Linked DNA regions of Homo sapiens: all the other regions are linked to region 1. Evidence: fine-mapped expression QTL. A gene starts in region 1. Each other region holds a variant in brackets. All regions are shown on one strand. Distances are from middle to middle. Region 1 holds the start of ITGB3BP (integrin subunit beta 3 binding protein). Region 2 has its middle 8.2 kb from the start of ALG6. Region 3 overlaps PGM1 (phosphoglucomutase 1).

The links. PIP is the estimated chance that this variant, and not a neighbour inherited with it, causes the effect.
Region 2: its variant is the best candidate, but not a certain one, in a credible set for the expression of ITGB3BP in coronary artery (GTEx, PIP 0.64).
Region 3: its variant is the best candidate, but not a certain one, in a credible set for the expression of ITGB3BP in whole blood (INTERVAL, PIP 0.66).

What each region holds. Positions count from the first base shown.
Region 1 is chr1:63,521,214-63,526,213 of GRCh38, forward strand. It overlaps ITGB3BP (integrin subunit beta 3 binding protein), which reads right to left and starts at 2,012. Exons shown (of 9, transcript NM_014288.5): 1 at 1,916-2,012. The coding sequence starts at 1,920. EFCAB7 (EF-hand calcium binding domain 7) reads left to right here and starts at 2,312. Exons shown (of 14, transcript NM_032437.4): 1 at 2,312-2,421; 2 at 4,359-4,546. The coding sequence starts at 4,360. RefSeq lists enhancers at 1,411-2,034, 2,196-2,275.
Region 2 is chr1:63,355,245-63,363,579 of GRCh38, forward strand. It overlaps the pseudogene LOC441887. Among named protein-coding and RNA genes, the nearest start is that of ALG6, 8.2 kb to the right of the region's middle. The variant T/C (reference allele first, on the strand shown) is at 3,638.
Region 3 is chr1:63,598,586-63,606,920 of GRCh38, forward strand. The region is part of intron 1 of PGM1 (phosphoglucomutase 1); the gene reads left to right. Among named protein-coding and RNA genes, the nearest start is that of PGM1, 9.3 kb to the left of the region's middle. The variant T/G (reference allele first, on the strand shown) is at 3,764.

The DNA of each region.
Region 1 (5,000 bases):
ATAACTATTTGCACCACTCATTTATGACCTCACCAGTAACCACATTAAAAAAAAAAAAAACACTTAATTTACTAACAATGATGGAGATTCTCTACTAACATGCCATTACGTTTTATGCATTACTTAACTGTTGATTTAGTCTTAAATCACTTTGCTAAAACTTAGAAAATTAGCAAAGTAATTGCTAGTTTCACATATATATTAGCTATATATGTGAGATGTTAACCTCAACTTTAAGGTTGTGTATTTATTACCAGAATATACTTATCTAAAAGCCTAATATAACATCTTGTGTGCATATGTTAGGAAGACAGTTGTCAAAAAGGTCCACTTTTAGGCCTGACACAGTGGCTAACTCCTATAGTCCCAGCACATTGGGAGGCTGAGGTGGAAGGATCACTTAAGCCCAGGACTTCAAGACCAGGCTGGGCAACACAGGGAGACACTGTCTTTACAAAATAAAAAAATTAGGCATGGTGGCATGTGGGAGCCCAGGAGGTAGAGGCTGCAGTGAGCTGTGATCACAGCACTGCACTCCAGCCTGGGCAACAGAGCCAGACTCTGCCTCAAAAAAAGAAAAAAAAAGTTCCACTTTTCATAGTTTTTTGGTTCCCCACTCCTATACACAGATACACACAGTTCAGGAGGTATTACCACTTGTTTGGCAAATACACCTCTGTTTTCACTGTATTCTTAGGGATTTTGTGTGTGTGATTGTGTGACATTATCTTTGCAGCTTTGTTTATTTGAGAACTGGATGATTTTTCTAATGCAAGAGTAGGGAAACAAGTCTCTTTGCTTAATTCTGGGGAAAGGAAAACCTCCTCAATAATCCATAACTTTTAAGGGCATCAGTAAAACATGCATTTATTGGCAGCTGTGTTGAACACCCTATTAGGTGATGGGTTTCTTTATCTGTAAAGATAATAGCAGCCCCCATCCCCTAAAGTATTTTAGGATTCAATGAAAAAACGTAGATAAATTGATTAATACAGCACCCACATTGTAATTCAAGATTCAATAAATATAGGTTATCATTTCTGTACAGCTTTCCCCTTTCATGTCAATTCCTATTTGATACAAAAATTTCCCCAGCTGTGTTACTTTGCATTTTACTTAATCCTGAAATAAACTAAGGAACAGGTTACACTAGAGGGGGTACCTAAATCAACCTGAGGACAAGGACGGCCAAGGAGAAATTACAGGTGTTTGATATCCACCCCACTCCCCCAACCTTTAATGGCTTTTTTAAGTTTCTATAGGGTAGCAACTATTTTATGCATCTCAATATAGGATGGATGAAGGATATGAAAAACAGATGAATCTTATCTAGCACAATGCCTATTCCCACTATGGTCATTCTCAATAATCAGATTATTGGTCATAGATGGGAATTTAGAGATCATGCAGTACAAACTTATTTGTGTAAGTAAAAAAAAACGAAGCTCAGGGTCGATAAGTGACTTGCCCAACAGTGAAAGAGTCTTATCTGGAATCCAGGTATCTAGACCCACTCAGTCCATGAGTTCTCCCACGGGTTTACACGAACGCGCCACATTAATGAAGGCAAGGGACTGACAAACTACGAAGGCGTGTTTTCATCTACTCTGTCCCATCCTGTGTGTCAACCTTATTTATGTTATTTCAAGTTAGACATCACCTAAATACAGCCCACAGTTTACGAAATCTGTCAAAAGCATCGTAGAAACAGAAAGCGAAGGAGGACTATCGTATGAGTACCGCTGGAGGAGACGTAGAGTTGAGGGTACCAAGCGAAGGGAATTGCCTGTGGACAGAGGAGACAAGTTCATACTCCGAAAAAATAGGAAAACGAGAAAGGCTACTGGGCCACATAATATCTTCTCTTCTTGCAGAGGGCCCCCAAAACAGCAATACCTGGGGAGGAGATACCTACGGCATTCTGAGATTCGGGAAAGCACCACTGCCGCTGAATAAAACGAACCCAGCAACTTCCGAAAACAGAAAATCCGCCAAAGGAAACGCCAAGGCATGAAAAGCGCGCGCTGGACGTTGCGTCAAGCCCACCGCGGCCGGGCGGAAACATCCTCCCCGCGACGAAGGATCCGGGTGTGCGCGAGCAAAGGAGCGAGCGGGGAGTTCTAGGCCCAGGACAGCACCTATTTCCTGCTGGTGTAACAGAGCACCTTCTCTCACTACTCTGGCCATACCACCCCCGCGATAGAGGAGCAACACAGCTGTCTCTGTGCGCTCCGGATCAGCGCTTCCTAGATTTCTAGCCGGATCGTTTGGAGAAGGGCTCTGCATCTTATTTCCGGTGGCGGTGAGGTGCAGTTGCCATGGTGATTAGAGAAAGGCCGAGATCTGTCCAGCTGCGGTGAGAGGAACGCTGAATCGCCGAAGAGAATTGGCTGCGCTTCCTTGTTTGTGAGCTAGAATTAGGTAGCAAACAGCTCGCTGTCTCTGTCTCTTCGCTCCCTCTGTCCCTCTCTGTGCAGCTGCTTCTCCTTCCTCTGCTTTGTCTACTTCTCTGTCATAAACATTTGGTCCATGTATGTACCTAAAATGTACATGTAAATGCGGTTTTATTTCCAGAGGAATACAAAAATAGAGAGATGGTGCCCGAGATTACCTGTGACGGTATTTCACTGTGTAGGGACGGTGACTGGACGGCTTTCTGTTTTCACTTGGCCCTGTAGAAGCCTTAGGCGCTTGTTAACAGTTTATTTTTCTTGCTATTGTGTGGCTGGTTATTTATGGAGCCGTTTGCTGCAATGTACTCTCTAGGCCCCTGTCTCAGTCTCGGGCCGGAGTTTTAAGTAAGGGAGGTTTCCAAGCCTGCGGGGGGTGCAATTATATGTTTATTTAAGCTTTAGTTTGGTTTCTCGTCACAGAAAGGAAAAGAATAAAATTCTGGCACATTTCTGCCTTGGGATTTCCATGTGAGGGAGTTGCCTTGTTTGGAAAGAATATTTGAGGACGATCCTAAAATATACTTATATTTTAAAATTGCTTATTGCAAAGTGAAATTCATTCTCCCTTACTTCTTGAAACAGTTTTCTTTCACATTTGTGAGGAGATGCATGCACACATATGTGTTTAGAACTCTGATGCTTAATTATAGTATTACCAATTTGCAGTAACCAGACTGTGACACCACATCCCTGTGGGGTCCTTCTAAATCTGGTGTAATATGAAAGTGTCAGGCAGGCGGCCTGCGTATTATAAATAGGGTACTTCATCCATGATAAGCAATTATTATCTTTCTTTCCCAAGTGTAAATGATCTATATAATTCGAAAAGGTGCAAGTGATTTAGGCCTCCTGAGTAGGAATGCAATGAGTCCTGAAGGGGACCCTACCTGTGTTATCTTATTATTGAACTTGAAATATTCAATTTATTAGGTTGGAGATCTATTTTTAGAAGTCAAAGCTGGGTAGAGTAATATTGGAAGCTGTTAGACCACCAGTAGAATCTAATACCCCATAGTAACCATTGTTCAGTACTATATCCACATTAACAAAGAAGAAACTGTTCGTGAAATTTACGGCTTTTTGCCACTTACTGCTAGCTGGGTGACATTGCTACCCCTCAATTTCCTCATCTGTAAAACGGACAAAAAAATACCTGACCGCTGTAATAGGGATAAGACAAGATGTATGACAGTTCTTTAAGCTCTTATGTACAGAGGTGCTATACAAACCCCAAATATTGTTATTAATAAAGGAACACAGTAAAACTATGATAATGCTATAAATAAGACTTTTAAAATATAGCTATTTGAAATGTGGGGCTGCATTATTGAGATGTTAATGAAATGATCTTGTTGATCCTGCTGTGGAAGATGGGTGTCAACTACCACTCATATCCCGATTCTCATTATTCTGGAGTTTCTCATTATCTGCAGTTTATTTAGCACTTACTACGTGTCAAGCAATATTGTATATGCTTCACATGTATTAACTGATTTGCTCCTCTTAAAAACCTGATGAAGACTGTCATCTGACTTTCGTATTTTGAGAGAATAGATGTGTGCTCTTCCTTTGTTCAGTGATTCTTCTCTTGTGTATATCTTTGTTCTTTTGGCTATTATCACATATTTGAACAATTATATATATACATATGTATATATCTAAAATTAGAAATTAACTGCCAAAGGCTTATTCTTGTTTAATATATAATACGTCCATATACAACTATAGTATTCGTCTTTTACTTCCACATATAAAACTTTTAATATCTTGATCTTTTCATATATGTTATAAATTTTCTTCTATGTATAAAATCTTGATTCTCCTCCCTGTATTTGAAAGACATGGTGACATTTGTGTTTTAGTGACTCACATTGACAAACACATTTTTAAATTATTTTCCAATAGAATGGCGATCAGTCCACGAAGCGATGCAACTTTCTCCAGTCAGAAATCAACACCTTCAGAGAGTCCTCGAACAAAGAAATTTCCACTAACTGAAGAGGAAATATTTTATATGAATTGTAGAGCTGCCTACTTAACTGTCTTCAAAAGCAGCTTGGAAAACATTATTTCTAAAGATCAACTTTACTTAGGTAAATTTTTAAAATTTTTAAATCTTTCACCTTTTTGTTGAAAGTTAATAAATAGGTCCGAAAGACTGAAATTAGAATTACCTTGTTGAATCATCCCAGTTTCTTAGTGAAGCTTGAGCAATGGAACTACAGTAAGCTATTATGTCATATCATATAGTTACATATTCTAGGAACTACAAAATAAAACTTTCAATGTTTATACAAACTAGATGGGTAATTGAAAGCTTCTATCAATTACTACTTGCTTAAGATACTTTTAATTCTCATTTTGGTGCTTTAAGATTTATCATAATAAAATTAAAACGCTTTTGGCCTCTTAAGTCACTAGCCTGAATTTGACCCATACTGAGGAAAGTGTAAAGGATGTGTAAAAATGGGTGGAATGTCTGAAAAAGTGAAGTACTGAGAGATAAGTGAACTTTTAAAAGAGAATTGAGTTGGGGTTTTTTTATTT
Region 2 (8,335 bases), 160 kb before region 1:
TTTAAAATGGAGTTCTTACCATTTCCCTTGGGAAGAATTTTTGGTTTGAATAGTTCTTACTGGCAGGTTGCTTCCTTTATGTTTAGCCCAAATTTTCATTTTCAAAGACCATTTTAGATAAGCACCATGATAGCTCTAAGCCAATGGATCTGTGTGCCACATAATAGAGTGTGACAATCCACTCAGTTGTGAAAGACACTGAAGATAAAGCAATAAAGCAGCATTTGTGTTATCACATTGGCTTTACAAATCTACTTAAGCACTGACCCAACAGTGTTATTCATTATTGGGAATTATGGATGTTTATAATTGTCCAAAAATACATTGGGCTAAGTTATACCATATATTATAGATTTAAATTTAAATTCAAGATCCCGGGCTGAGAGAGATGCAGATTTGTAACACTCCTTGGAGGTTTGGGGGTCCGTGAACCAATGAATACATTATATTGTCACATTAAAGAACTCTTTTTATCCATAAAGATGTAACTTTTTTTTATGATCCATATAAACAAAATTATTCTTATATGTATGATTATATACATATATATGGTTGAAACATCTGTATGTATGTATATATATGAGAATAATTCCAGCTGGCATCTGAAATTGACAGTAAAAATAACAATGATTATATTCTTCTGAACTGTGTATAAATTACTGGTGTAAGCTCCTTAAGGGCAGGCTATTTAGTCAATAAATATTTGTTGAATGAATGAGTATGTTCACAAGTAATTATAAATTTAACTTGATTTGCATCACTTAAACAATAGAAATCAAAATTACTCTATTCACAGTAGAAAACAATTCATTTTTAGGCATGGTGTGGTGGCTCACGCCCGTAATCCCAGGACTTTAGGAGGCTGAGATGGGTGAATCACTTGAGCTCAGGTGTTTTGAGACAAGCCTGGCCAATAGAGAAATCCCATCTTTAATAAAAATAAAAAAATAAACTGGGTGTGGTGGTGGGCACCTGTAATCCCAGCTACTTGGGAGGCTGAGGCAGGATAATTGCTTGAACCTGGGAGGTGGAGGTTGCAGTGAGCTGAGATCATACCACTACACTCTAGCCAGGGCGACAGAGCCAGAATCTGTCTCAAAAAAGGAACGAAGGAAAGGAAAGAAGGAAGGAAGGAAGGAAAGGAAGGAAGGAAGGAAGGAAAGGAAGGAAGGAAGGAAGGAAGGAAGGAAGGAAGGAAGGAAGGAAGGAAGGAAGGGCATATTTCTTAGCTCTTTCCACAGAAAGGACTAAAACCAAAAAGCAACCCAATAGCAATGAGCATCCTCAGCACATAGAATGTGGTCTTGAAATACCATTTCCTGCTAAAAGGAACCAGGGTTCTTGAAGAAATAGCTAATTACAGGTTTGGAAAATAAACATACAAAAATAAACGTGGAGCATCTTGTTATACCAGATAGCAAGGAAACTATGATCCAAGTAAAGACTGCTATGTCATGTCAGAAGGACTCAGGAGCCAACTTAAAGAGACTCCCACTAGCCATGGGACACACTGAGCACCAGTAAGCACAGTAACGACACTGGATCGAAACACATCGAACGTGAATTGTCTGTCACATTCTCCATGAGTTCATGATACTTTTTAAAAAAATTGTCACCAATGGGGAAGCTAATAAACCAGCTCATTATTTTGAAACCTCTTCCCCTCCCCTTCCCTCTCCCTTTCTTTCACACACACACACACACACACACACACACACACACACACACACACGATCACCCTTGTTTCAAACCACAGAACAGACTTATAGATGAAAGGAATCTCTTTTGGAGCTTCGGAAACCAACCTTATATTTGGAGGAACCAAATTGGAATCAACTTAAAACTGAATTGGTTTTTTTCTTGAGACGAAGTCTCGCTCTGTCTCTGAGGCTGGAGTGCAGTGGTGGGGTGATCTTGGCTCGCTGACATCTCTGCTTCCCAGGTTCAAGCGATTCTCATACCTCAGCCTCCCAAGTAGCTGGGATTATAGGTGCACGCCACCACACCCGGCTATTTTTTTTTATTTTTAATAGAGATGGGGTTTCACCATGTTGGCCAGGCTGATCTCTAACTCCTGGCCTCAAGTGATCCGCCTACCTCGGCCTCCCAAAGGGCTGAGATTCCAGGCGTCAGCTACTGTGCCCGGCCTACTTTTAATTTCCTTTCTTCCTCTCTCCCTCCTTCATTCCCTCCCTCCCTTCTTTCTTTTTTCCTTTCTTCCTTCCAGTAATTCTATAAAATAAACCCTGAATGTATATCAATATTTAACTTCTAGGCTGGGCGCGGTGGCTCAAGCCTGTAATCCCAGCACTTTAGGAGGCCAAGGCGGGCAGATGGCTTGAGGTCAGGAGTTTGAGACCAGCCTGGCCAACGTGGTGAAACCCCATTTTCTACTGAAAATACAAAAAAATTAGCCGGGGGTAGTGGTGTGTGCCTGTAGTCCCAGCTACTCGGGAGGCTGAGGCGGGAGAATCGCTTTGAACCTGGGAGGCAGAGGCTGCAGTGAGCTGAGATATTCCACTGCACTCCAGCCTGGGTGACAGAGCAAGATTCTGTCTCAAAAAAAAGAAAAAAAGAAAAACAAAGAAATATTTAACCTTATCTTTCATGTTTAACTCATTTTTCCCATGCCAAGAATCATGGTCTCTAAACACCAGCCATGATGGAATTTGAATAGCATATATATCTTCATTTTCTTTATCCCACTTTACACATATAGTAGTCTCAGAATAACAATTCCAACCCTAATACCCACAATACGATTACTAACAATTATTTAATTATTTTAACAGATTTTTTTTTCCCTTAAGGTATATCAAACTAGGAATTAACCATCAAATTACTGTGTTTTTTCCTTTTCGTTTCTTTGAGACAGGATCTTACTGTGTCGTCTAGGCTGGAGTGCAGTTGCACAATCATGGCTCACCTCATCCTCAACCTCCTGGGCTTCATGTGATCCTCCCACCTCAGCCTCCCAAGTAGCTGGGACCACAGGTGTGTGCCACCACACCCAGATAATTTTTTAAATTTTTTTGTAGAGATGGGATCTCCCTATGTTGTCCAGGCTGGTCTTGAACTGCTGGGCTCAAGTGATCCTCGTGCCTGTGCCTCCCAAAGTGCTGGGATAGCAGGCATGAGCCACTGCACCTAGGCCCTACTGTGTTTTTTCTGTTTATTCTTCTTCTTTTTTTTTAATGGAGTCTCGTTATGTTGCCCAGGCTGGCCTCAAACTCCTGGGCTGAAGTGATCCTTCTGCCTCACAGCCTCCCAAGTAACTGGGATTACAGCTGGGCCATTATGCTGGCTAAATTATATGTTTTAAAGTCACTTGGAACAGTCTCTTTGTGTAGCAGAGCCATCAGCTGGATATATAGTTAAGTTATTTTATTTCACTTTATTTTTGAATTTTAGGAATTTATTTTTTCCATTTTAATTTTGCTTTATCATTAATTTAATCAGCAAATTTCATATTCTGACTTCCTTTAAATAGCCCTAAAAATGAATAAAAGTTAGCTAAGATCTATGTTCAGATACTTATCTGCTGTATCTCTTAGGGAAATTGTGCAGTGTCTCACACCAGCATTTCCAAAAGTGTGTTTCATGGACCATTCTTCAGGGCGAGAAGTGGGAGGTGGGG[T/C]GGGTGTGAAGATAGGAGTCTATAGTCACATGAGTCTAAAAATCCTATATTCTCTTGGAGAATCATGATGTACATAACATATAAAAGGCTTTGAAAGCCAGGTGCAGTGGCATGTGCTTATACTCCTAGCTTCTTGGGAGGCTGAGGCAGGAGGATTACCTTAAGCCAGGATTTTGAGGGTAGCCTGGCAACATAGTGAGACCCTGCCTTAAAAAACAGGCACCAAGAAGATCTGAAGTAAGGAAGCTTTCTTCCTTAGATTTGTGTAACCTAGTGTTTTAAAATTTATTTGTCTGGGCCGGGTGTGATGGCTCACGCCTGTAATCCCAGCACTTTGGGAGGCCAAGGCAAGCGGATCACCTGAGGTCAGGAGTTCGAGACCAGCCTGGCCAACATGGTGAAACCTCATCTCTACTAAAAATAGAAAAATTAGCTAGGTATGGTGGTGGGCGCCTGTAATCCCAGCTACTGAGGAGGCTAAGGCAAGAGTATTGCTTGAACCCAGGAGGCGGAGGTTGCAGTAAGCTGAGATTGCGCCACTACACTGCAGCCTGGATGATAGAGTGAAACTCTGTCTCAAAAAATAAATAAATAAAATTTATTTGTCTGTATGAAGAGACTGTCCTCACACCTTTTTTTCTCTTCTTTTTTTTTTCTGTTTTAATAAAGTTAAAGAGTAAAATAAAAATTCACAAGCTGCTTCCTTGTCCATCTGCCTACCTCCATCCCCTAATTGCAGTCTTTGACACTGGTTCGTTATCCGTCACCCCATTCACACAGACACTGGATGTCCAACTGAGAAAACAGAACTGCAGTAAGTACACGGAGACATGATGTGAATTGCATCCACATTCAAGATTAAACTGAGTGACTCTGCATTTTCTGGGTTCTAGGTGGTTGCCCTTCATTAGGCAAATAGAAAAAAATTCCCTGGACCAGACGCTTCAAAGCTGAAGCCCCAAGACCACTGAAGAATGCCTTGAAGATACTATTTGCATCAAAATCACCCATATTCATGCCCTCCTTGTCCAGGTCCTGTCCACTGTCCTAGCGAGTCTTTTTCTTGGGATCAGAGAAGATGGTAAAGGCCTCTCCAATTTCCTTGAACTTCCCCTCCTCCTTCTGAACCTCAGCACTGCCTCCACTGTGCCAATCTGGATGGTGCATCAAGGCCCATTTGTGATAAGCTTTCTTGGTCTCGTCCTCAGAGGCATTATTGTCCACTCCCAGAATCTTGTAGTAATCTTTCTTCTTACTCTTCTTCAGTTTCAGCTGTGCATTTTTTAGGAGCTGTTTGTGTTCTTTTGTTTTCTCTGTCTGATACACTTTTTCATAATTGTGCACTGCTTCTTCATACTGTTTGGTGTTCATGTAACACTGAGCTCTTCTCAAGCAGGCTTTTAAATAGGTGTCATTGAGCTTCACTGTATTTGTGCAGTCTTGTATTGCATTATCTAGTTTCCTAAGCTTAGAATTAACCATAACCCAATTATAGTAGAGTTTAGCTTAGTTTTTATATTGTTGGGGTTTATCCCCAGGGGTCATGTGTACAGTTCGTATGCTAGCTTGTAATTTCCTTCCTTAAATGCTTTATTTCTGTCTTCTTTCTTTGCTTTGAGTGCTTTGGGATTTCTGCAAGCAACGCAGGCCCTCTCATGGAGCCATCCTAAGAGCCTATACAAAAACTGAAATGACTTGTCAATACAATCTTCATAATAAAGGCAAAGACCTTATACATACAGAGGATCTGCATTGGTGGACTCCATTTGTAAAATGTCACTGGCCACAGATTGTGCTTCTGGATAATGACCCAGCATTACTAAATATTCTGCTTTGAGGATTTTGAAGCAATGGCAGGCAGGGGCAAGTGCTCGGGCACAGTCCATGCAGAGAACAACCTTCCTAATATCATGCTTCTCAAAATCTGTTTTTGCTAACTTCTCATATTCCATTATTGAATTGGCATTCTTGAACTCCTGTTATTCCTGAGCATTTTTATGATCCAGTTCTAGGGCTCTCTGGAAACTAACATGTGGCCATGGCATTCTCTAGAGAGAGGGGGCACTTGCCCCCTCCTAGATGTCCCTGAACAAAACTGTCATCCAATCTCAATGACTGGTGTGCATCTCCAAGAGCTTCCTGGAACCTTCCAAGCATAATCGATGTGGCTGCTTGATTACTGTAGTAGCTAGCATTTTTAGGACATATGCCTATGGCTTTTGTATAATAATTATAAGCTTCATTGTAGTATTTCTTGGCATAATATACATTTCCTTGTTCCTTGAAAGACTCTCCTTCCCATGGTGTACAGTTAGACTTCTAGCTTCCCTAGAAGTGAAGTTCTGATGGGCAGCCACCAAGTCTAACTTGTCTGGTTTCTATTAGCACATGGCTCTGCATCTGGCATAGACAGAGCAGATGCTCAGAAAACATTTGACGAATAAATGATATTGAGTAAAGGAAGTGTTACTTACTATGGTAGCCTTTAGAGAGAGATTTTGTTGGCCTGGCGTGATAGCTCATGCCTATAATCCTAGCACTTTGGGAGGCTGAGGTGGGCAGATCACCTGAGGTCAGGAGTTTGAGACCAACCTGGCCAACATGGTGAAACCCCATCTCTACTAAAAAGACAAAAATTAGCCAAGTGTGGTGGCACATGACTGTAATCCCAGCTACTCGGGAGGCTGAGGCAGGAGAATTGCTTGAACATGGGAGATGGAGGTTGCAGTAAGTCGAGATCGTGCCCCTGCGCTCCAGCCTAGGCAACAGAATGAGATTCTGTCTCAAAAAAAAAAAAAAAAAAAGAAAGAGAGAGAGAACATTTGGGCATCAGAGACACCAGAACAGCAGTCTGCAACTAGGGAGCCTAGAACCTTCCTGTTTTTTGTGTGTGACAATAGTTATTATCTCACTGAATGAGAGTTCTGTAGAACATGCTTTGGGGAAATGTCACTCTCAAGTTTTCTTATATGTCAGAAGGGGATAATAACACCTGTTCTACCATTGTCTCAGAGTTACTGTGAAGATCAAGTGAGCTGGATATGAAAGACTTTGGCTAATGCCTATACTGAAACATGACAATGTAAGTTTAACTCTAACATTCTGCTACTCAGGTGAACTTATGCCCTACATGGGGCAAGAGTATAATGAGACTTAGAGGTTACAGAATAATGGAAAATGAGTCATTTTGACCCATAAAAGGGTCAATTAAGGAACAGGTACTGATAAGAAAATAGATTCTATTTAAAAGAATAGTTATGATCAGGTGAATGGCTTTCAGTTAAAATCAGAGAAGATCTGAAACTTATATAGAAAAGGGCTTGTTTTCTTACTGAGTGGAAGTGATCTAGGAAAGGGACTAGAAACTATTATAAAAGTATGATTTGTGTGAGGAAGTTTGCCTAGCTGATTAAATATTGACAGTACCTTCAATAAAGTATATAATAGTTTGTTAAGGTTGCTGTAACAAAATAGCACAGGCTGCGTGGCTTAAACAACAGAAATTTATTTTCTCAGAGTTCTGGAGGCTTGAAGTCAGAGATCAAAGTGTCTGCAGGGTTGATTTCTTTTGAAGCCTCTCTCCTTGTCTTGCAGATGGCCCTATTCTCCTGTCTTCACATGGTCTTTCTTCTGTGCGCATGCATATCTGTGTTCAAATTTCCATTCTTGCAAGGATCCAGGCATGTTGGGCTAGGGCCCATCCTAATGTCCTCACTTAATATTAATTACCTCTTTAAAATCCCTATTTCCAAATATAGTCACATTCTAAGGCACTGGGGATTAGGACTTCAACATATGAATTTTGAGGGCTACAATTCAGGCCAAAACAAGTTATATGCAATTTGTACCATGAGATTATCTTTACTCTACATACATGAAATGGCCACCAGAGGTTGCTCCTTTTGCAAAAGACATGGCAGAAAGACAAGTAAGTAAGGGGATTTGAACTCTGATTTTTTGGCTGGTGAGAAATAAAATTGTTAGTTGGGCTCTTGCCCATTTCTAGTTTCATCCCAACTTTTCTGTAGTGGATTACAGATGGCCGGAAATTCTTTCCTACCTTCCCACTGAGAGGCAGAATCTATTTCCACTCTCCTTGTATCATGGCTAGGTTGCTGTGTGACTTGTAAGGCTGGGGTGTAAGAGATCTGCAACTTTTGCCTTTGCCGCTTGGAATGCTCTCTCTGGGAAGTGAGCTGCCGTGTAAAAAGTTTGCGAAACTTTCTGAAGAGAGAAGCCCTGTGGAGAGAGGGCTGAAGCTGTTCACGGATGTTTCAGCCTGAGCTGATCTCCCAGCTGAATGCAGCCTCATGAGTGACCTCAGACAATCCCAGTGGAACAGATGAACCACCTACCTGAACCCTGCCTAGATTCTTGATCCATAGAAACATGAGCAAATAAAATCATTGCTATATAAGCCGCTAAATTTTGGAGTAATTTGTTACACAGCAGTAGATAATTGAAGCCATCACCTATTAGTCAAACTGACTTTAGAGATTAATAGTATTCATTTCATATTCTTTCCCATCTGCCTTTAAAATGCACCAACTTTTTTTTTCTTTTTTTTTCCCAATGGAGTCTCGCTCTGTCGCCCAGGCTGGAGTGCAGTGGTGCGATCTCGGCTCACTGCAAGCTCCGCCTCCCGGGTTCACACCATTCTCCTGCCTCAGCCTCTCGAGTAGCTGAGACTACAGGCAC
Region 3 (8,335 bases), 79 kb after region 1:
TAATAATACTGTGGTTTGCTTCCTACATTTATAATAAAAGGAGGTGCTAAATTTCAGTTAGATGTTAGTGAAAATAAAGATTGTTTTGTTTATTTTGTCATTCATATTCATGGATCCCATTGAATTCTACCCAAGGACCTCTTGAGGTAGGGGAAGGGGATGTAAGCATCCCAAGTTAAGAACCCCACACTAAACAATGATCCTTTTTTAGCATCAGGTGATGCCTGCACCAAAATGGACCTCAAACACATGACCCAGAGGTTAAGGGTCTCATGTTCTCAGAGCAAACTAGTGGGACTTTGCAAACTTCGCCTTATAGTGGAGGAACTCCACTGTCTCCCGCTTGAAGTGAACCACCCTTTTCTGAACTTTCATGAGATCCATCTGCAAACACTGCTGAAGGAACATGTTTCTGGCTATAGCAGTTCACATTTCTTGAAAAGGAAATAAAAGAACACTGAGCAGGAAGGGGAAGGTTTTGAGACTCTTGGGTAGTTGGAGTTAGGTGGAGACACCTTGCTACTTTAACTTTAAACCTTATATCCCTGGGGCAGGGATGACTTGGCAGAGAAACACCTTCAAGTCACTTTTTTTTTTGAGACACTGTCTTGCTCTGTTGCCCTAGGCTGGAGTGCAGTTGCAGGATCTTGGCTCACTGTAACCTCCGCCTCCTGGGTTCAAGTGATTCTTCTGCCTCAGCCTCCTGAGTAGGTGGGACTACAGGCGTGCACCACCATACCCAGCTAATTTTTGTATTTTTAGTAGAAACGAGGTTTCACCATGTTGGCCAGGATGGTCTGGATCTCTTGACCTCATCATCCGCCCGCCTCGGCCTCACAAAGTGCTGGGATTACAGGCGTGAGCCACCACACCCGGCCCAAGTCACTTTTTAACATGCTGTAACCCCCACTTTAAAAAAAAAAAAAACCACTTTTTAATTATGGTGGGGCCGGGCATGGTGGCTTACCGCACTTGAGTGGGTCACTTGAGCCCAGGAGTTCCAAACCAGCTTGGACAACATGGTGAAACCCCTTGTCTACAAAAAATAAAAAAACTTAATCTGGTGTGGTTTCGGGCGCCTGTGGTCTCGGCTACTTGAGACACTGAGGTAGGAGGATCACATTCACCCTGTGAGGTCAAGGCTTCAGTGAGCTGTGATTGCACCACTGCACTCCAGCCTTGGCGATGGCAAGACCCTGTCTCAAAAATAAATAAATAAATAAATATAAAATGAATTATGGTGGGCTTTGAACAATTGTTCTCCCCTTGTTTACACTTTCTGATTTTGAATCAGCACTGAATGCCAGTATGGATAACCTATTGTCCTTTCCATCCAGGAGCATACAATCTTTTGGGGGAGATAAGACAGAAGAAACACATAGACATACAAAGAACAGAATTAGAAAACATGCTGAGCTCAGCGAGAGAGAGAACATTTTGGATTGGGAAAGAAGAGGTGCCTGCACCTAAAACCAATTATGTCTTGAAGAGCGGATAGTGTGCGATAGAAGATGGGGCTACCCTTCAGGAAGGGGACCTGCCGAGAGAAGTGAGAAAGAGAGAATAGGCAGGACTCTTTTTTAGAGCCGGACACTTAGTCACTAAACAATCTTTGTTACATAAAATACTTAAATCAGCTTGCTTGGGACTTTTTCTTTCTTGGCTTCACTAATGCTCTTGGTGAAACATCTTTTTCCTTTTTCTTTTTTAATCAAATCTAATGCTCATGAAATTTTGTAGAAGAAAAAGAAAAACGTTCTCCCTTTCTGAGATAGAGGGTTTGTTTTGTTTTTGTAAACAAGATAACAGGGAAGAGTGCTCTACTGTTTTGGAAAGAGTGACTCATTCAATAAATATTTATTGAGCACCTATTAGGTTCTCGGTACTACGGATACAACAGTGAATTGAACAAAGTTTCTGCTCTACAGAGCTGTGGGGTTCTCGTTGAGCCTGACAGATGATAAACGTGTCAAATGAAGATAAGTTCTCTGAAGAAAAATAAAACCCAGTAAAGGGGACAGCATTAGAGGATGGGCTGCTCTTTTTAGTGCAGCAATTGGGATGTCTGATAAACCTCATGAGAGCAGAGACCTGAATGAAGTGAAGGAGTGAGCCATGCAGATATCCGTGAAAAGACTTCCAGACAGAGGAAGAGTTAGATGGAAAGGATAAACACATATAATCATTTAATGTTATAAAATTATGCCTCAGGTAAATAAATGTAGCATACATTTTATCGTACAAAGGGTCCCAATATACTATGACATTTTGCATATAGATTATAAGTATTATTCTATTATAAATTTATCTTGGGATAATAAGATGTGTAATCAACATTGATCAAATATTTAACAATAATTTTTTTCTCTCTTGGACTCTAGGGTAGGGAAAACTTTTCATCTACCCTCCTAGGTTATATACTGGGGGCTTGCAAATTAAATGTAAAAGACAAATGAGCAACAAAAAGACATTTGTGGGAGTTTACAGAAAAATGTGACAGGAGGCAGTTAGACTTGGGGGCCTATACATCATCTCAGTAGGGGAAGGCGGAAGAGGAGAAGAGCATTTGCTGGAAACCACGACTTTAGGAGAGATAAATCAGCCCTTAAGAGACTAGATAGGAGATGTGGTAGTTTTATGCCAGTGTCTATTTAGTTATGGTAATGAGTCGATCTTCCCTGGTTGTGAAACTCCAGAGTTCCTTTGGGGCACACTGCTTTTAAGACAGATGAAGGAGTTTAGTAAAAAGCCTATTTTTAAATGACTGGCTCAAAATAATTTTTATGTCACAGTGGTGTAGTCTGGACCCCTTTAGACTTTAGAAGAGCTTTCAGCAGATTGATTTGAGTGAGCTACACTTCTAAGAAAGTGAAGCAGGAAAGTTTGAACTGATCCCTTTATTCTCCTCCAAGTTCCCTTGAGGCCCACACAGACATAGCCAGTTATTCTGCTGACTTTGAAGCTGTGCTCACAGTTGGGATCCACCTTTGAAAAATGGCTCCTGAGTGTGTTAAGTAAGTAATGGCTAGCCGAGGGCTTCAGTTGGGAGGACTGCGGAGAAGACTTTTCTCCCCTGGGGTCCTCAAAGGGGAAAGAAATCACAAGGGGGCAGCATAGGGAGTTGTTTGGAAAGGGTGAGAAGGCTGTGCTTAGTGTTGGGATACGCGGATGGATGTAAGCTGGGTTTTGTTTTGTTTAGTTTTTTAAACTTCAGCTGTTGGAAGTCCTCCTTCCCATAGCTTCTCCAAATCACCACTGAGCTGATTCCCCAAGGCATAAAGACAGCCCTGAATTAACACAGTGGGGAATGCTAATTAAGTCATGCCAATAAAGATTTAATCATGAATCAGAAACACTTGGAAAATTATGTTTTCATATTGGAAAGATGTTCTTTTTTTCTCTATGAGTACCCCAAAGTGTTTTTGAAGGATGAAATGCGATAGGTGGTAGGACAGAAATATTTGGTTGACTTGTCCAGTATGCTAATGGTGTTGGAACAGGGACTCCAGTCTTCTGATATTTCATCTGGTTGGTCTTTTCCATAAATAAATATATCCCAGAGCAAGTAGTTCTGGGGATTGTTATAATATGCTGGTTAATAGCATGGAGAAACTGGCTTGGGCAATGTTAAGTAGGAGTTTCAGAGCTTTTAATATATGAGTACTGAGAGTTTGTAAAAGGACCCCAAACAGAAGAATTTTGGGAAATACCAATCTATACCATGCTGGGTTGATAGGACCATCTATATTATACAAGAATCTTC[T/G]CAGATTTAAGTTTCTTCTTTTTAAACTGCCATTAAGGGCATGCAGGGAAGGTGAAATTTTGTTTTAATATCCATGTATACCATATGGCTTATTTTGGCAACTAATATATGAATTTGTTCTTGGCTGCTTTGAGTGTGATTGATTCAGCCCAATAAGTATTTTCTAACCAGGTCACCACATGTAGAGTTATGAGGTAAGTGACAAAAGTCCTTCTGACCAAATATTAGTCCTGTATGTTGTACTCCAATGTGCTCACAAGTGAATTGAAATGTTGCTCAAGAGTGAATTGAAATGGCTACTACATTGTGTGAGTCCGGAGGGCTTAATCTGCATGGTGTCATAGCCATTTGGGGGCTAAACCGACAAGTGTGAGGATTGTAAACTGGCAGGGAGCTCAAAATGAGCTGATTGGTGAAACTTCATGGTGATCTCGTAGGTTGCAGCAGAGAACAATACAGGCCCAGTCCTCACATGCTTGGGACTTAAGGTGAAGGTTTGTGTTGGAGGCTAGGTGGGTTACGGACAAGCAGAGAACTGCCACAAGGTGCTGTCAGCACTGGGATGGAGGTGAGCAAAGGAGGCTAGGAAAGCATAAAGGAGGCGTGCCTGGTTCCAGCAGAGGGAGTAGGGAAGTGACAACTAAAACCAGACCTGAAGGTGAAGAGCAGAGAGGAATGTTCCAGGCAGAACCATAGGTGAGAGAATTTGGCATGTTTAAGAGAAAGCTCCCCTCACTGCCCCCCAACTCCGTATTTTTGTTTCATACTCTGCAAGGAGCAACTGCACTAAAAATGTACCTCATGTTTTCTATTTTACAAGTTACTGCCACATGCATGGCCTTATTTCCTGTCTACAACAAACCTTTCAGGTGTCCCAGGTCACAAAGTCAGGAAAAGAGCCTGGGAACTGCCCCCACTCTTCCTAGAATGTAAGGGGTGTTGGGCCATGTTCCAAATACCAGGTTCCCACTGAGAGTGGCTGAGGATAATGCTAATCTGGGCAGTTTTAAGCAGGAAATGAGTATGTGGAGTAGGGAAGTGCGGAGATCTTGCTATGTAAGTCAGAGCTATTTTTCTCACTACTGGGTTGAATTAAAACCAGTTTCTGGAATCACAATGTAAAACAAGAGGCAAAATCCACCTCGAGGCACATTGGTTTTTATTCCTTAAATGTTCCACATAAAAAATGAAAACTGAGTCAGTAGAACAGAATCGTAAGACCAGATGGCTTCCCAGGATCAATGGGGGCAAGCCATTAACTATCATCTAGTTAATAGAGGAAATTGCATTTTACAGTGGGATGGGTTCTAGAGTTCGAGTGGAAGATGAAACTTCAGTCAAAATCATCCTTAAAGTCCCATAGGAAAGTACCACATTGGAGAACAACATGTAACACAACAGGTATGTCTTTAAATAGCAGAAGTGCACTCAAGATACCCATACTTTGAGAAGCACGTGGGGACTAAGACTGAGCAGGGGCCTGTGGTCACTGGGTGAAATGGTGGCAGAATTGCCCATGCTGTTTAAATTTCACTCTTGTCTTCTTTGTCTCCCTGGAAGTTCTATATACAACAGTTACATTTGTGCAAGATAAATACTTGTATGATGTGACTACACTGCACATTCTTGATGCTACTCAGAGTGCACATATGAGAATCATCTCAATCATGATTCATCACCTGCAACTTGGAGCACTTATGCCCTGTGCCTTTCTACCGGGCTTATATTTGAAATCTCAGATTTCCCTGTCAAGGCTTGATCTTACCGCTGCAGATCTGTTTGGACCACTCTGAAAGAGTATACTTTGAGGTGCCTTCCAAAGTGAATTTGATGTACACCACGTAGCCTATAAGGAATTTTTACGATTTTATAGGTTCAATCAGCTGTTGTAACAGACACTCAAAACAACAGTGGATTAAACAAGATGTTTTTCTGTCTTGTGGAATATTGTGGGTCAGCAGGCCAAGACTAGCATGATGGATCCATGATGTTGGGACCCAGCCTCTTTAATCCTGTTGCTCTGCCATCTTGAAGGTGTTGCCCTTGCCCATCTGGTTGCAGATGGCTTCTACTACCACATCCATGTTTCATCTAGTGGGCACAGGGGAGAGATGGGGCAGAGTGTCTTCCCCCTTTAAAATCAGGAAATTGTGTACCTGACTATTGCTCACAATCCACTGGGAAGATCTAACATGCAGGCCACATTTACTTGCAAGAAGGGCTGAAAATGTAGACTCTATATTGAGAGGCATATGGCCCCCTGAAAATGAGTGGTTCTGTTACCTTAAAGAAGAGAAGGAACACTAGAAATATGTGCCATGGTCCACCTCTTTGGCCATGAAGACAGCCATGCCCATTGTTCTTCCTGCCCATTGAAACACAGCACTCCTTTCCAGTGGAGGCACCCCAGATTCCTTCCAGTTACCCAGTCAGTACTCAGTGTTCATAGTTCTCTCCATCAAGCCCATGTGTGGCTCCTTGTGTAAAGTTAAAGACAAATTATCAGGCCCCCTGTCCCCACTACATAACTATGTATAACTATATATATAGGGAGGGAGTTACATAACTCTGTGTGTGTGTGTGTGTGTGTGTGTGTGTGTGTGTGTGTGTGTAAAGAGAGGGGATATAGTTGTATATTTACATATGTAGACCAGTCACTAGCCATAGGAGTGTTCACATTGTCGCATTGTCCTGGCTGGGAATGCACACTCCTGTCCTGGCAGTGGAGTAGGTCCACAGGGAACCCTGGTTCCACCCTCAGGGAGGAACTCTATCCACCTGCTCATGTAAATATATTTATTGAGTAAGAGTGGACATTGGAGAAGGCCCTAAAAGTCCTTTTGGGGCTGTACAGCTTATGTAACCTGCTTCCTGCTGATGAAAGTTGGAGGAAAAGAGGCAGGGGTGACTTTTGCAGGCCAGGCTCCTGGCTCTTTCACTGTACAGTACCTTCACAAATTTAGTAGTCTTCTGGCCTATCCTGATCAGTTCCATGTGCTGGTAATCACAGTGAAAGTTCTCACCTAGATAGTTTTGAAACCTAAAAACTTTGACTTGTATTTATTGGATGCTTTGTGCCTCCCTTGATTTCTCTATTACTGATGGCTACCTTGAGACAGGTGGAAAAGATAGGCTAGTACGAAGGCAGTATCCTTAATCTGATTTTGCTGGTGGGCTAGTTCCCATTGTCTGACAGAGAATCCTGGGGAATATTTTATTTATTATTATTTATTATTTTTATTTTTTTGAGACAGGGTCTCACTCTGCCATCCAGGCTGAGTGCAGTGGTGTGATCATGGCTCACTGGAGCCTCGAATTCTCAGGCTCAAGTGATCCTCCCACCTGAGCCTCAGCCTGGGACTACAGGCATGCACCACTACACCTGGCTAATTTTTTGTATTTTTGTAAAGATGAGGTTTTGCCATGTTGCCCAAGCTGGTCTCCAGCTTCTGAGCTCAAGCAATCCACCCACCTTGGCTTCTCAAAGTGTCAGAATTACAGGTGTGAGCCACCGCACCTAGCCCTGGGAAAGATTTTAGACACAGCCTTCTCTGCTAAGCCTGCTGCTTACTGTATAGCTGATTTAACTTGGTTTCACAAATAGTTGTCATCTCAACTCTGTGATGGCACAAATTCCTGGACTTGGACGGTATCATTTGCAGGCCACAGTAAAAACAAAAAACAAAACTTCCCTTAGCAGAACCCAACCTGCCTTTATTTCTCTCTGCAGAATGGCCAGCCCTTGCCTGAGCTCCCGTCTTTATTGTAGCAAGAGGTAGTTGACAAGCACTCATGTTCTGAATTCTGCCAACCATTTGTCTCAAGCTACAAATTTGGTTGGCCAGTGGTCTGCCTTCCATGCTATCAGAGGCAACAAATTTTTCCATGCCATAAAAAGCATGCTGATGCCAATGTTTTAGATTCTGTTTTGGTACAGAATACCAACTTTTTTGTTAAAATGTAGGTTTGGCTGCTGTTAGCAGAGTTTCCAAATAAAGTACTTAAAAGTTGATAGTAATGGAACCCTTCCTTTCATATCCTGGGTGTGGGCAGTCCAGGGCTGATGTGTGGCTCCATTATACACAGGGACCCATGCCCCTTTTCTTCTGTTGTGCAGCCTTCCCTGGAGTGTTGCTCTTATCTAGGTCCGGGATGGCTGCCCACCACCTTACCTTCATGCCAGCTAACATGCCAACAGGGGAGAAAGATGGAGGAAGGCACACCTTTCTCAGAGATTGAACATATCTGTTGCACTCATGTCGCATTAATCAAAACTTAGCTAAGCCTACCTCTAGCAGCAAGGAGGGCTGTGAAATATCAGTCTTATTCTGGGTGTCATCTGTCAAGCTAAACATTGGGGATTTGACAAACCAAATGAAACAGAGAATTGATGTTGGGAAACAACCAATAGTTTATACTGTCCTAAGCATTCCCTCCAAATCTGGTGAAAATCACTGTCATTTTCAAGTGGTAGTGTTACAGAGAGAAGACAGAACTTAATTTTATATGGGCAGCTAGATTTTTGGAAGAGACCTTGGCCGTCAATTATTCCAACCCCACTTTAGAAAGGAA